2 separate regions of the Homo sapiens genome follow, and region 2 is linked to region 1. Evidence: fine-mapped expression QTL. A gene starts in region 1. The other region holds a variant in brackets. All regions are shown on one strand. Distances are from middle to middle. Region 1 holds the start of ARGLU1-DT (ARGLU1 divergent transcript). Region 2 overlaps ARGLU1 (arginine and glutamate rich 1).

Region 1 (2,920 bases):
TAGTTATTTTTAAATGTATTTGTACATTTTAAATGTATTTTAAATGTGGTTGTATTAATTTACTTTCCCACCAAGTGTATGAGAGGGTCCCCTTTTCTCTACATCCTCTCCAGCATTTGTTATTGCCAATTTTTTGGATAAAAACCATTTTAACCAGGGTGGAATTATATCTCATTGTAGTTTTGACTTGCATTTCAGTCAAATGGACCATTGGAACCCAGATCAGGGCTGAAACTCCATTTATTTCCTGGCCCACAAGCACCCTACTCCAATAGAGGGCCCTAAGGAATCCCGAGTTCTCTGGGTGTGAATGTCAGCTCAGGCCCTGTGTCCAGCATTTCTCAAAATGTTTGCATATTCTGCTTTTCCACTGTATAGTTGTTTAAACAAGTGACCACAGGCACATTTGGCAAAGAACCATTGGAACCATAACTGTGTTCCCTTGCCATGGGTGCTCCTGAGAACCTGACCTCCCTTTGAATTAGTGGATTCTGGGTCAGATAAACTGACTCAAGGATTAAGATCTGTTTTATTTCTTCTTCCATCATCTATCACACACTTGTGGCATTTCATCTTTACTTAATGTGGGCTGTAATTTTCTCCAAAGTTCCAGGAGTCATCCTAGCAGTGTGATGAAAACATCTCCCAGAGTCCTTGCCAGGGTGGCAAATCATCTATTACAGTAGACTGTGCCCATATAAATAAACTCATCATTTTCCAACTTCATGCTTCCCCTGCTTTGATTCATCCCCCTCATTCAGTCCCATGAAGAGTCTCTGGCTTTGGCCATTGCACGTTGGCCTGCCGCCTTTAGGCACATGGTTCCTTCCTTTGCTCAGCAGGCTCTGCATTTCCCCTCCACATGCTGTCTCACTTGACTCTAGTGATGGGTCTGGTCAAGGCAGGAGGTGGGGGTGGGTCCTGAGGAGCACTGTGTTGTCTTGCAATGCAGAGATTCCTATACCATGTTCAAGCAAGGGCAGAGCACAGCCTCTCACAGGGAGGTCAGGGCCACCTCTGTAGGCCCGGAGGGCTCTGAATGGAGTGTTGAGGTTTTGTTTTGTTTTGAGATAGAGTCTCACTCTGTCACCCAGGCAGGAGTGCAGTGGTGTGATCTTGGCTCACTGCAACCTCCACCTCCCAGGTTCAAGCGATTCTCCTCAGCCTCAGCCTCCTGAGTAGCTGGAACTACAGCCACACACTGCCACGCTTAGCTAATTTTTTGTATTTTTAGTAGAGGCCAGGTTTCACATGTTGGCCAGGCTGGTCTCGAACTCCTGACCTCAGGTGATCTGCCTGCCTGGGCCTTCCAAAGTGCTGGGATTACAGGAGTGAGCCACTGTGCCCAACCTCAAGAGTTGAGGTTTTGAGAGCATTAATTCTGTTGTCTCTCTCATCCCTAATAGGCCCCTGACATTGTCATAGCCATAACCAGACTAACCAGAGCTAAGAATTCAAATTTTTTTGAAGTGCTGCTATTCTTATAATTAATTCCTGGGCCTTATCCTTAGATTTTTCAGTCCTCCTGCTACAGGAGATGAGTCTCTTCCGATGCCTCCAGTGAGGCTTTCTCCCTTTCACACTTTCCTTTCAATGATGATTCACAGCCCTGAGCCTCACTTTGTCTTTCTCTAATGCCTCCAGTGACTCAGCCAGAGCCATTAGAGTCCATTGTTCTCAGGACTGGTAATTTCTCTAACTCCCAAAAGCCTGGGAGATTGCCATCTACCAGGGTATTCTCTCCCACCTCTTTCCCACCCCAGGTCATCACCAGTGAAAGTTCTGACACTTGCACTTCTCCGGCAAGCCAGGGCCGGGGCTTCACTGCCAGCCAGCAGGAGGATGAGCCAGCTCTGCAGTTCCACTTCAGAGTCCATCTTCTTGGATCACTCTTGGCACCAACTGTATTGAGTTGAGTTCTGGGAAATAGACTTGCAGGTAAAAATTTCCATGAGAAGTTTTTTGGGGAGTGATCTTAGTGCTTATACCTATAAAGGAGTAAACGCGGTAACACTGGGCAGAAGGAGATGTTGAGCTTTGTTGCAGTTGCAGCAGAGGAATCGGTCAATCTTGCATGGAGTCTGACCTGGGAGGGCCTCCCAGAGCTGTATCACCATGAGGCAAGGGGCCAGGCCTCTGCATCCCACCTTTGTGCACCAGTCATTGGATGCAGCTGCCCCTGGGATGGTGCTATGAACTTGGGCAGGGTGGCTGTCTTCAGCTGGGAGCCGTTTCCAGGAAGGGACCCAGTGGGGAGCCCTGACAACCACCCCCCAACCCACCAACACTCTCAGCTGTGGAGAGGATGACAGCGTCTGCCTGGGCATCACAGCAGCCACAACCGCCCCTTTTTCACTCCTTTTAATCTGTCTGCCCCCTTTTATACATTTATTCTTCCAAGGTTTCTATTCTCAGGCTTTTTCTTCTTGGGTCTGCCTTTCTTTGGGGGGATGGGGCTGCGGGGAGTGTTGCATCTACTTCCTACTACAGATGCTGTGCCCTGTCCTCGGATCTCCATGATTCCCACCCACTGGTTTATCCTTCTGTTTGTACCAGTCCTCTTTGGACTTCCCACCTGTTTGCATCACCTCCCCAACTTCCCGATTCGACCCCCAAGTCCTATATCTGTACGATACCTGTGCATGCCTTGTATGGAAGTCCCCATGGCTCGTACGTTGTGGATCCAGGCTTCTGTACTTCAGTTCCCAGCACCAATATCACAACCTGTTTGGAAGTGGACATGCGTTAAATTCGTGCATGTTCCCTACTTTTTGCCTTGGTGTCTAATTCTGCTCTCTCTTTCCACCCCGCCCCCCTACCTCAGTCCATTATCCACAGCTCTTACAAAGCTACCAGAGGAAGCTTTCTAAAATATGAATCTTTATTCATCGAAAAATATTTATGGAACGTTTGCAGTGTC
Region 2 (2,920 bases), 70 kb before region 1:
GCCTAGAGTTTATTTTCATTTCTTTTGCCAGCTTCATCAGTTTAGGGCCACATATCTTTTGTACATCTAAAATGGTGCCCGTTTCCAGTGTGTCCTTCAATCCATCCTACACGATACTGCCAGACTCACCTTTCTTGACCACTGCTCACTCTTTCTTGTTCTCAAATTGCCAATGATATCCACTGTCCATGGCATACAGCTTAACTTCCTAAAGTATAATGTTTCTCTAAGACAAGATTTTCTATAACCTGGCTCCAGCTTTGTTTCTACTCCTCTTCTAAATTCTCCTTTCTATCTTGTTCCCCCGTCTTTTGCTCATGCCATTCTTTCCTTCTATGGAAATCCTACCTGTACATCAGAATCTATTTCAAATAGCCACTCTCTTCCTTAGGCTTTCACTGATATTACAACAAAAAGAACTGCCTGCTATCGGTCATCATTAATGAATTCATATGCCAATCACTTTATCCAGTTTTAATAAATCATCACAAATTTGGGGTAAGAGCTTAGTGTGTGCAACTGAATCAAGATGTAGTAAGGGTTCTTTGGATGTGTGTGTGTGCCTAAGAAACATTTTATCAATATAAATACTCAGATTCACTTTCTTCTAAGGTTCTAACTCAACCCTAGGAAAGCATCCTAGAGCCCTGGAGAGTGAGGGTACATAAAGAACATCACAACCTTAATCCATAAGAGAAATCTAATGAACATTACAAATATACCATTTTTTACCCTAGAAGACAGAAATTCAAAGTGTGACAGCACACTGCTGTGGTTTCAGTATGTCCCCCAAAGGTCGCTGTTAGAATTAACTGGCATTGTTAACAGTATTAAGATGTGGGGCATTTAAGCAGTGATTAGGCCATGAGGGGTTCATCCTCATGAATGGATTAATTCTGTTATTACCCGAGTGGGATGTGGGTTGGTTACCATGGGAATGGGCTCCTGATAAAAAGACGAGTCTGGCCACCACTTTTCTCTCTCTCTAGGGCCCTCTCTGTCTAGCTTGCTCGCCATGTGATGCCTTCCACCATGGGGAAACCTCATGGGATGCCTGTGCCATGTTCTTAGGCTTCCCGGCTTCCAGAACCCTGAGCCAAATATTTTTATAAATTACCCTGTTAGAGCAGCAAAAAATGGACTAACACACATATGCTATCATATAAAGAGCACTCTCACACTATCAAAATTACATCTTCGTAATACTTTATGCCAGCAAGTACATTTTCTGGAATTTACATTATGTACTTGTACAGCAATGTGCAAATTTTGCACCCATGCGAAACTGATATATTTACAGGGTTACATATTACAACACAGTTTATAGAAAGAAAAGAATGTGAAAAAAACCCAAATATCCACCAATATGGGGTACACTAAATAAATTACTGAAGATATATAAAGGAGAATATTGTATAGCCATTAAAAACAAGTAAGAGGAAAAAAGGAGGCCCCTATGTTCCGCAATGGAAAAATCTCCAAGTTACACTGTTAAATGAAAAAAAGAAAGTTCCTTGTGTACATGCTACTTTTGTGCAATAAAGGGAGAATTAAAATATTATGCATTTGTATCTGCCTGAATATGCTTTTACAGACATTCTGAAAAGATTTTAAAAACCCGTAACTGAGTACACTTTTGGAGACGGGG[T/C]TGGGAATTGGGGATTGGGTTGGGGGTAAGGTAAAGGGACTTCACTGTTTCTCTTCCTAAAAAAACAAAATTTGAACCATGTGATCATTTTGCCTAATTAAAAAAACAAGATTTTTAAAGTAAAGCAACTTCCTTCAGATAAAATACTAATTCTGCACTTTAGATTGGGTAAAGAATCAAGTTTCTTCACTTAGGTCTACAAATACAGAAGGCAAAAGTGTGTTGTGTATGTATGTACAGCAGAGTTGATTTTCTCCGGGACTACGGCTCAACAATGTTAATCACCAATGCTAGGCATACAGTGCCTACTAGAAGTATTTAATGCAATGATTTAAAAATTAGTTGAATATACTGTCTATATACAAATATTGGTATTTTGTTCTACTATGGCTTTAGGCATAAATCTTAATTACACTTTGACAAAAAAAAAGACTATTCAAACACTAACAACCGTCATCTCTCATTTTAATATAGTCTCTCAAGTGATAAAAGCTGGTTTCCTGTTCATCCACCACTTGTAAGTGTGGTATGACCCTATACCTTATTTGCTAGGTATTTTCCTAAATCCTACCCTCTCTCTGTAGTAACTTTTTCTTTCCTGATGACTTGACTTGCCGGAGAATACAACCATTGCTCCTTTCCCTGCTTGTTTCACATTTATGCACAAGAAAGCAGTATTTGCATGGGGGGTTGGGGATGCATATATGTATTTATACAGATGAGTAATACTAAGCAACTCACTCACAAGGATTACGTAGTGGACAGCTTGGAGGCCAAGGAGAAAGCTAACATCCACAATACCAGAACCAATACACTGGGGCAGACCCTCCTAGCCATTATGCCCATAACCCTGTTCAATCTCACAAAGGTGGCTTTCAACTTTGTACCCCAAGCTAAAGAGTGACTGGTGGTAAGAAGTACACACACAAAAAAATGTTCCATTATAGTTAAAAGGCCTACTTACCCCTCCCAGTAATCTCTGCCCTATTTTATTTATTTATTTATTTTTAGACAGAGTCTTGCTCTTGTTGCCCAGGCTGGAGTGCAATGACACGATCTTGGCTCACTGCAACCTCCGCCTCCCGGGTTCATGCGATTCTCCTGCCTCAGCCTCCCGAGTAGCTGGGACTACAGGTGCGTGCCACAACGCCCGGCTCCTTTTTTTGTAGTATTTTAGTAGAGACGGAGTTTCATCTTGTTAGCCAGGATGGTCTAGATCTTCTGACCTTGTGATCCGCCTGCCCTGGCCTCCCAAAGTGCTGGGATTACAGG

Evidence for each region. PIP is the estimated chance that this variant, and not a neighbour inherited with it, causes the effect. A credible set is the group of variants that fine-mapping cannot tell apart.
Region 2: its variant is the best candidate, but not a certain one, in a credible set for the expression of ARGLU1-DT in prefrontal cortex (BrainSeq, PIP 0.72).

The regions. Positions count from the first base shown.
Region 1 is chr13:106,616,096-106,619,015 of GRCh38, forward strand. It overlaps ARGLU1-DT (ARGLU1 divergent transcript), which reads left to right and starts at 1,715. Exons shown (of 4, transcript NR_051977.1): 1 at 1,715-1,938.
Region 2 is chr13:106,546,110-106,549,029 of GRCh38, forward strand. The region is part of intron 3 of ARGLU1 (arginine and glutamate rich 1); the gene reads right to left. Among named protein-coding and RNA genes, the nearest start is that of EFNB2, 12 kb to the left of the region's middle. The variant T/C (reference allele first, on the strand shown) is at 1,649.